2 separate regions of the Homo sapiens genome follow, and region 2 is linked to region 1. Evidence: fine-mapped expression QTL. A gene starts in region 1. The other region holds a variant in brackets. All regions are shown on one strand. Distances are from middle to middle.

The links. PIP is the estimated chance that this variant, and not a neighbour inherited with it, causes the effect.
Region 2: its variant is the best candidate, but not a certain one, in a credible set for the expression of NOD2 in nasal epithelium (TOPMed, PIP 0.60).

The regions. Positions count from the first base shown.
Region 1 is chr16:50,690,616-50,695,776 of GRCh38, reverse strand. NOD2 (nucleotide binding oligomerization domain containing 2) reads right to left here and starts at 2,171. Exons shown (of 12, transcript NM_001370466.1): 1 at 2,115-2,171. RefSeq lists enhancers at 1,202-1,281, 1,522-1,571 and a silencer at 1,942-2,451.
Region 2 is chr16:50,729,916-50,735,076 of GRCh38, reverse strand. It overlaps NOD2 (nucleotide binding oligomerization domain containing 2), which reads right to left. Exons shown (of 12, transcript NM_001370466.1): 12 at 2,002-3,330. The coding sequence ends at 3,258. CYLD-AS1 (CYLD antisense RNA 1) reads left to right here. Exons shown (of 7, transcript NR_184279.1): 4 at 2,717-2,859; 5 at 5,124-5,161. Among named protein-coding and RNA genes, the nearest start is that of CYLD, 9.6 kb to the left of the region's middle. RefSeq lists a silencer at 1,265-1,559. The variant T/G (reference allele first, on the strand shown) is at 2,861.

The DNA of each region.
Region 1 (5,161 bases):
TGCCAGGGGCATTGGTCATATTTGTTCCCTCCTTCCTCTTTGGGGCATTTTCTTCATTTCCTCCAGGACACCCCAACTCTCTGATTTTCACTCTTTCTGTCTTCTTGGCTGGTTCCTAACACTGGGGGCCCCAGCACTCAATGGTTAGACCCCTTCTCTTCTCCATATCACTCCATCCCTAGATGAGCCCACCTGCTCTTGTGGCTTTAAATACCAGTTATATGGTGATGATGCCCAAAGTTTTATTTTCAACTCCAACCTCCGCCCTTAACTTTTCCCAACTGCTTACTCATCATTGATGCCTAATGGGCAGCTCAAACTCCACAAGCACAAAACCAAACTCTTGATCTCTCCGCTAAGCAACTCCCATTTCAGTTCATGGCAGCTTCAAACCTCCAGAAGCTCGAGCCAAACACTCAGAATCATCTTTGACTCTACCTTTCTCTTGCACCCCAAACCCTATCGACACGGCCTTTGAAATATATCCCAAATCTGAATGTCTGGTTTTCTTTTTTTTAACCACCTCTGGGCCATGGGCAAGACACCATGGTCTCTCCCGAGAATGACAGCAATGATCCGCTCAACGGGCTCTCCTTCTGCCCTTACCCCACCCCCCCCATGATCCATTCTCCACCCCACAGCTAGATGGGCCTGCCAGACCCCAAGTCAAAGCAGGTGACTCCTCTGTTCCAAACCCGTGCTCCCATCATGCTCAGAGTGAAAACCAAAGCCTCCCAGCCCCCCAGATACTCATGTGGCTCACCCCTCAATTCCTTATGACTTTGCCCAGCTATCGTGGTCTTGGGGAAGCCTTCCCTGGTTGTGCTATATACAATGCAATACCCAGCCCCAGCACCCCATCCTGCTTCCCAGCTTTGTTTTACTCGTAGTACTTCCCGCCACCTGCTACGCCATGTATTTACTTATTTCATTGCTGTCCATTCCTTTCTAGAGTGTGCACTCCATGAGGGCAGGGGGTTTTGTCTGATTTTCCTACTGCTCTGTCTCGTGTCTCATCCAGTGCATGAATGATGACTGCTGGAAAGAATGAAAGAACTGACTTGCTCTGCATGGCTCCGGGAGACAGACATGGAACCAAGGTGTAGAATCTGTAAGCCACAGATTTTAGCTAAAGGAAACAAGAGCTGCAAGGCACTAAAAAGCCACCTCATCAGTAATAAGCTCCCCACCACTGGGCATGTGTCACAGAGGGGCTCTGCACTGGGTAGGAGGGAGGTGGGCTGGATGAGGATGCTTCCAGCCTCAGATCCCAGGGTGCAGCGAGGCAAAGGGGCCTTGAGCAGCCAACAAACTCAGGGGCCCCAGCAGCCCCATGGCTGAGTGATCGGGACAGGCAAGTACAGGTGGTGGGGATGTCACTCTGGTCTTTTTCACTAAGGGGTCAGGGGAGGGTGACAGGGCAGGTGTTTCCCCTCTGTAGAACAAGGACCCTGGAGGAGGCTAGGTCACAGCCCATGGGGAAACCAAGGCCATGGCAGGAGAGGCTCAGAAAGAGCAAACTCAGAAGCAGGGGTCCAGCCCCCAGCCCTCATGCAGCTTCAGGAGGTCCTCCCCAGGGGGATTGGGGTGGAGGGCTTTTCAGTTTGTTGGAATGAAAGCAGGACCAGATGGCTGCTCCATCAACCTGAGAAGCATAGGAGAGCAAACAGCTGGGGGATGTGGCCTCGCAGGTCCTGGTGTGGGCTGTCTGGGAAGGGATGGATTTGAACTTAGATCTCACACCCAACAAGGGAGAAGGAGGAGGCAGGAGATTCCCATAAGAGGTACAGAGAGCAGCAGCAGGATCCTCCAGGCAGACTCTCTCACTTATACCCACCCACTCACTGGCATGGTGAAGCTGGGGAAACTGAGTCCCACAGAGAGGAAGGAAATCAAAAGAGTGGCCCAGGGGCCTCCCCAACCTCGAGATGCCCCCTTTCCGTCTCACTTCCCATCTACATTCTGGGACTCCCCCAGGAGAAACCGAGGCAACCCTTGCCCAAGCCCTGCGGCCAGGACGGCTCAGAAGCCAAGTGTTCAAGTCCCGGGGGTGGGACCCTCGGCGCCCACAGTCTCCCCCCAGCCCACCCCCAGGCGCTGGGCACAGCACTCACCGCGAGCCGCCTGCGCGCCGACTCCAAGGCCCACTCCGGGCCACGACTCCCGGCTCCGGCTCCGGCTCGGGCTGCGGCTCCGGGTGCGCGGGCGCTCGGCTCCGCCCCCGCCCGGACCCCGCCCCTGCTCTGCCGGGACCGCAGCACCCGCTCCTGTCCCGTGGCCCCGCAGCCCCGCAGCCCCGCAGCCCCGCAGCGCCGGCTCCAGGGCTGGCCAGGCTTACCTGGGACAGGGCAGGACCGGGGCTTCCTGCGGGGCTGGACGGCCCTGGCTGTGTGCCCTAGCCAGTGTGCCTCTCTTTCTGGGCCACGTTTCAACCAGGAGGGAATCGGGGAGTCCTCGGAACAACCCGCTTCCCAACACATACACATACACACACACACACACCACACACCACACACACCGCTTCCCAGCACACACGCGCACACACACACACCACACACACACCGCTTCGCAACACACACACACGCCCTGCTTCCCCCCCACACGCAAACATGTTTCCCAATACACACACACAGCCCTCGCTTCCCCCCACACACAAACATGCTTCCCAATACACACACAGCCCTCGCTTCCCCCAACACACATACCTTGCTTCCCAACACTCACATACACACACACACACGCCCTGCTTCCCCCCACCACAAACATGCTTCCCGATACACATACACCCCCTACTTCCAACACACACACCCTGCTTCCCAACACTCACACACACACCACTTCCCAACACACACACACCCTGCTTTCCCAACACATACACCCCACACACACCGCTTCCCAACACACACGTGCACACACACACACACCCCACACACACACCACTTTCCAACACAAACACACACTACACTCCCTGCTTTCCCAACACACACACACCCCACACACACTGCTTCCCAACACACACGTGCACATACACACACCCCACACACACACCACTTCCCAACACACACACACCACACCCCACACACACCACTTCCCAACACACACACCGCTTCCCAACACACACAAACATGCTTCCCAATATACACACACCCCACTTCCCAACACACACACATCGCTTCCCAACACACACATCGCTTCCCAACACACGCCTCACTTCCCAACACACACACACACACACACGCACACACAGCCAAAACTAGGAAAACTTTTCCAGAGTGTGACAGGTTACATGTTAGGTAAGAGTGGACTGGTCATTTAAGGTTCTTTTTTTTCATTTTCCTTTCAGTTTTTCCGTTTATGTTGAATGGAGTTTATTTCTCAGTTTAGTACTAATAGGGTTTGAGTACCTTTCTAGCACTGCCTAGATTACTTGGCTCTGAAACTATCTAATTAGCTTTAATAGCATTGTTTTTGTTTCCATTAAATATATTTTATTTTACATTCTTCTGTTCTCCGGAGCAAATGACACCGGTTTTCCATTTAACATGTTAATGTAAATGTTCCTTTTGAAACTCATATTTGGTTGTTTTAAAAAATGTGAAGTCAATTTTTAAAAATAACGAAAATAACTGGCATCTAGAAAGTGTTTACCATGTGCTAGTCTTTACAGACAGTAACTCAGTTACTTCCACCTCTAGGGTATTGACTATTATTGCCTCTAACTTATAGATGCAGAAACTGAGGTACACATTTGAACTTTGATCTCACGCCCACCAAGGGAGAAGGAGGAGGCAGGAGATTCCCCTAAGAGGTGCAGAGAGCAGCAGTAGGATCCTCCAGGCAGACTCGCTCACTTACACCCACCCACTCACTGGCATGGTGAAGATGGGGAAACTGAGTCCCACAGAGAGGAAGGTACTCAAAAAACAGTGGCCCCCTCTGAGACCTGAAGCCCGGGCTCCTCAGGACTTCTCACTCCTGCCAGGGGCCTCCCCAGCCTCGAGATGCCCCCTTTCCTCTGGCACCAGAGATGGGGATTTGCCCCAGGCCTCTGGCACAGATGAATGCTCTAACCACTACCCCATACCGCTTTCAAGTAAATACCTGTGCAGGTGGTGCACAGTCAGCCAAGGTTGGAAAATGCTGCATTAGAAGGACTGAATCTACCCTAGAAAATTCATTCTGGGCAGCGCACAGAACCATCTACAAGGATGTTCACCACCATCTTGCCTACAGCAGTGAGAAGCTAGAAACCTCCCTAATGCCCAGTAACAGAAAATTAATTAAGAAAACTGACAGAACATCTGAACCTAGAACACTTAACCCGACCCATCTTCTCTCAGCCCCACTATCCAATCTGGGAGCAAATTTTTCAGCTTGGCCTTCAAATATTTCCAAGCTGCAGCCCATTTTTGCCATATGCACCATTACCACCTGGGTCCACATCTCCATCATCTCTCACCTGGGTGATAGCAGGAGTTCCTGGCCATTCTCCACGCCTCCATCTACAGCCCTTCTTCAATCCAGCAGCCAGAGTGAGTCTGTTGGTTTTGCTGTTGTTGTCGTTGTTGCTGTTTTAAGTCAAATTCTATCACTCCTCTGCTGAAACTCTTCTGTTGATGGCTCCCATCCCAAAGTAAAAGCCAAGGTCCTTACAATTGCTGTTTGGCCTCTGGCACCCTCTCTGCCCACCTCTTACACTCTCATCTTACTCACTCTGCTCCAGCTACACTGGCCTCCTGGCTGTTCCTCAAATATGCCAAACCTGCAGTTACACTCAGGCCTTTGCCTTTGCTGTGCCTGGAATGCTCTTTCTTTAGAAATCTACCTGGCTCCCTCCTTCCTCTCCTTTGGGTCTTTGCTTCCATATGACTTTCTCGGCAAGGCCTTCCCTAACTATTCGGTGTACAGCTGCAACACCCTCCAATCCCTTCTCTCCTGCTTTATTTTGTATTTTTCTCCATAGCGCTTATCTGCACACAACACATTATGTATTCTACTTATTTATTGTCTTTGTTGTTGGTCTCTCACCCAAGACAGCATGAGCTCCAAGGGAACAGGGAATTTTTGCTTTGTCCCTTGCCTTCTCCCAAGGCCTAGAACAGGACCTGGCATGCAATAAATCTTTGTTGAGTGAATATACTAAAAATAATGCTGTGGTTCT
Region 2 (5,161 bases), 39 kb before region 1:
AGGTAATCCAAGATGATCTTCCCATCTCAAGACCCTTAACTGAATCCCACCTCCAAAGTCCCTTTTGCCAGGTAAGGCAACATTCCCAGGTCCCGGGGATTAGGATCTACATATGTTCGGGAGTGACTATTGAGCCTACCATGCATACCACGCTCCTTCCCTCACCAGGGTCTTTGTACCTCTTGTCCCCCATTACTAGAATGCTCCCTTCTTCCCTCTCACTCTTTGCTTGGCCATATCTTTCTCATTCTTGGGGACACAGCTTACCTGGCACCTCCTCAGACAACCTGTCTCGGACCAGCCCCTTAACAGCCTGAAGACTTTTTTTTTTTTTTTTTTGATACGGAGTCTTGCTCTGTTGCCCAGGCTAGAGTGCAGTAGTGTGATCTCAGCTCACTGCAACCTCTGCCTCCCGGGTTCAAGCAGTTCTCCTGCTTCAACCTCCCAAGTAGCTGGGATTACAGGCACCTGCTACCATGCCCGGCTAATTTTTGTATTTTTAGTAGAGACAGGGTTTCACCATGTTGGCCAGGCTGGTCTCGAACTCCCGACCGCAAGTGATCTGCCCACCTTGGCCTCCCAAAGTGCTGAGATTACAGGCATGAGCCACAGTGCCTGGATGAAGACTTTTTCATGTCTTTTTCAACTGACTTGTTTTCTGCCTGCCTCTCCCTCCACCCTCACCTAAGCACCTTGAGGACCATGTCTGTTTTGTCAATCCACTGGTCATCCTAATATAACTGGTTAATAAATCATTGCTGAATTTATTTATTTATTTATTTATGACAGTCTCGCTGTGTCGCCCAGGCTGGAGTGCAGTGGCATGATCTCAGCTCACTGCAACCTCCTCCTCCAAGATTCAAGCGATTCTCCTGCCTCTGCTTCCCAAGTAGCTGGGATTACAGGCGTGCGCTGCCACACCCAGCTAACTTTTTTTTTTCTTCTTCTATTTTTAGAGACAGGGTTTTGCCATGTTGGCCAGGCTGGTCTTGAACTTCTGACCTCAAGTGATCCAGCTGCCTCAGCCTCCCAAAGTGCTGAGATTACAGGCATGAGCCACCATGCCTGGCCTCATTGCTGAATGAATTTAAAGATGACAAACTGACAACCCAATACAGTGCTATGCAAATGGGCTGCTGTGTGTACTCCTCAGCGAAAGGAGACTCAACACCACCTTCCTCCTGATCTGCTGTATCAGAAACAATGGTCTGGGCAGAACAGGGCACCAATCACAAAGAAAACCCATAGACACACTCCCATGCAGGGTCCAGGGAGATGCCACACCACCGAGTCAGCCAGACGCAAAACCTTTCAAGGAAGTAGGATTTTACCTTGCTGGGTGACCACCTGATCCCTTGCTTATTAAACGCAGCTAAGCACTATTTTAACACAAGGCCTGCATGAGAGGCTGCTCGCTGTGGAGAGCCAGCCATAAGTAAACCTTCTCCATCCTTCTGTTAAAGACTCCTGGAGCCACTTTGAGGGAATCGAGGGGGGCCAAGGGGCCTTTTCACATGTGTTGCAGCCTTTTAGGCTGGGTACGGGGAGGCTCCTGCACAGCTGAAAACTTCACGGGGTTAAACTTTTCTAAACTGAAGCCAAAAGTGTTTTGATTGCCTGGCTATTTTCTAAGAATTGCTTTTGCCTTAAGCTATACATTATCGGGTTGAAAACATCATTTTCCTCCGCTTCAAGTAGAAAATTGTGCTTTAAAATTTGACAAGTTTTAGTAATATTTTTATTTTTTATTTTCTTTATTTATTTGAGATGGAGTTCCACTCTTGTTGCCCAGGCTGGAGGACAACGGTGTGATCTTGGCTCACTGCAACCTCCACTATTTTTAGTAGAGACAGGGTTTCTCCATGTTGGTCAGGTTGGTCTCAAACCCCCAACCTCAGGTGATCTGCCCACCTCGGCCTCCCAAAGTGCTGGGATTACAGGCGTGAGCCACTGTGCCCAGCCAGAATATTTTTAAATGTTTGGTCACAAGGAAGATGGCTGTTTTGACTCAACAGTTTATTCCCCTCTGATTATTTACAGCATAAAGTTCACGGCCATGTTGTCTATAAGAGTATAAACTTAAGACAGTAAAACAAAGTGACCTATAAATATTAACCAGTTTTCACACATCATAATGTTTAAAATAATAACATTTGCACAGCATCTGACAATTTACAAAGGCTTCAACATACATCATTTTGAATAATCCAGGAAGACATTTGCTTTGAAGGAACGGCCTAATTTTTTTTCCTGTAAACTTTCAATCCATAACTGTACATCCTAAAGCATTCTGGCACAAATGAAATGGAACTGCCTCTTGTGGGTCTATTTCAGAAGTCTGTTGTCAGAGTTCAGTTCACAGGCATCAACCAGAAGCCTAGTGAGGCCGTTTGAAATTCTGGCCCAGATTAATTTTTTAAAGCTGCATTTGGAGCTTTTTAAAGTCGAGCTGTTTCCAAAGGCTTAACTGAAGAGTAACTGATTTCACTGGAAATAAAAGTCCACATGTGATCCCAGCTGGAGTGTGGTCATATTTTTCTTGCAAACCTAGAATGTCTTGGGGAACAAACGGCTGTCACGTGTCCCCTTCCAAAAATGTCTTAAACACCGGAAAGGAGGGCAGGCTAAGGTGTAGCCCTTCCCACCCTGGGTGCCAGGGTTGGGGGTGCTGTAAGTGAAATATCAAAGCTGAGGTCACTAATATTCTGAATTTCAGCCTCAGAGGAAGGAGCGTGTGCAGGAGTCCAGGAGGAGGGGAGGAACCAGAGACGGGGAATGGCCTGGATGGATGAGTCGAGACATGGGGAAAGCTGCTTCCTGAATTATGTGTTCTGTGTACTCCTCTTCATCAGAGCAGTGG[T/G]AAGGGGTCTTTTGTGAGAGGCCGGGCCTCTCCACCAAAAGGCACTCAGTTAACAAGCACATCCATGGGCCCCACTGACCCACACGGAAGCCTGGGAGGATCAGCAGAGGCCAGTCCCATACTATGGAGGAGGGGCTGTCCTTGTACATCCTGGGATTGAATCTTGGGAAGAAGTCAATGGCAAAAGTAGGCTTGGGAAAAGTCTATCCTGGAGGGCACTGATGCTCCCTCCTCTGCCAGAATAAAGGTGACCTATGGTGTTCCCAGAAAACAAGTTCAGCCTTAGGCAGGACAGGGCTCATTTTGAAGAGGCTGCCAACACATGTCACCCAGCCTCTGGGGCCCAAACTCACAGCCTGCTCACAAACAAACTGAGACGAACATCCTCCCGGAGACTTCAAAGCAAGAGTCTGGTGTCCCTGCAGCCGAGCTTGTCAACCTCCTCTAGAGAGAAAGTGTTCCCTCGGAGCCTAAAGCAGATCAAGTGAACAGAGGTTTGAGTGAGGACAAAATTAGAGCAGGGCTTTCAAACAAAAGCCTCCACTTTTTAAACCCATGCCTGGGATGGGCTGACTCTCTGGCCCAGCTGCAGTGTTTCTTGCAGGGAAGTCAGGGCTGTTTTTACCCTTGGCCAACCAGGGCAGCTCAGGAAGCATTCTGAACAAGGCTCCATGACTCTGCAGAGAGAGTCCACAACACTGCACCCAGCCAGCCACAGACTCCCCAAGGCCAGTGATTCTTTTTAAGGCAATAAGAGAATCTGTCAAGAATGCAATGAGCAAACCCTGGTGCCCTCCCAAGTTCCATCAACAGGCAGCAAATAACATCAGACCCCTTAAAATATCAACCTCATGTTGGCTGGTGCCCAGGACCCAGAATGTGATGTTTCTTAGGACTGTGCAATGGTTTCAAAAACAAAGAAACAGAAAACCTACACTTTGCCCAGAACCTGATGACGTCATAGGCCACAGAGCTATCACAATCATACAGAAGGAAAAATCTCTCCATCACAGCATAGATTTTTGAAGTCACTTTTAAATTTTTTATTTTTTTAAGAGATGGGATCTAATTCTGTCGCCTGTGCAGTGATGCAATCATGGCCCACTGCAGCCTTGAACTCCTGGGTTCAAGGGATCCTTCCATCCCAGCCTCCCAAGTGGCTAGGAACTACACCGCACCCAGCTGAATTTTTTATTTTTTGAGAGACAAGGTCTGGTGTTGAACCTCTGGCCTAAAGTGATCCTCCTGCCTCAGCCTCCCAAAGTGCTAGGATTACAGGTGTGAGCTGCCACGCCCAGCAAAGCTTTTGTTTTTAACTTCATCATTTGATATCTGCATTCGCTGCAGCCTTGATGTGCTTTTTGAGAGAAGACAAGGCCTGCATATTTAAAGCAAGGGTCACAGGCTTATGGGAATGAGTTGCCAAAGGGTCCTGGTCTAAGACAATAGGCTTGGTGGATCTGCAGTCAGCCAGAGTGGGTTTGCCCATCTGAGAAGACTCAGCCCTTCTTGTACTCTGGTTAACTACTGGAATCATGAATGGGCATCCAGAGTTCCCAGCTCTTTTGAGAAAACCCTGAGATATAGATTTTCTATAGGAAATTTCCTGGCTTTTAAATATTAGTCTCTAGCCCAGTGCCTGGAACATATATAGTAGCATTCACTTACAGCACATTAGGCCAGGGAAAGCCTTTACTTATTGTCTGAGAAATAGATCCCTGGAAACAAGAAGGACAAATCTTTGAAGCTGTGGCTCAGCAGAGAGAAAGTCTACAACACTGGACCCAGCTGCCCAGACTCCCAAGGCTAGTCATTCTTTTTAAGGCAATGAAAGAATCTGTCAAGAATGCAATTCTTGCTTTTTTCAATACATGAAAGTCTATGGCTTTAATTATAGAGAATTGGAAACACTGTGCAACCTGCTCCTAACCTGTGTAATCTCCATTCAGAACCGCAGAAGGTCTGATCCAATATCCTTGACCTGTGAAGGCAGATGCAATTTCTAGGAGGGCGGGAGCTGACTTTTCTTTTCATTCTTCAACCACATCCCCATTCCTACACTATCTCATAGAGCAGAGAAGTTGCTGAATAAATAGTCAAGGTTTAAAAATGAAATCATTGCTCCCTACTTAAAGAGGTAAAGACTTCTTTCTTAGACAGAGAATCAGATCCTTCACATGCAGAATCATTCTCACTGAATGTCAGAATCAGAAGGGATCCTCAAAATTCTGCCATTCCTCTCTCCCGTCACCCCATTTTACAGATAGAAAAACTGAGGTTCGGAGAGCTAAAACAGGCCTG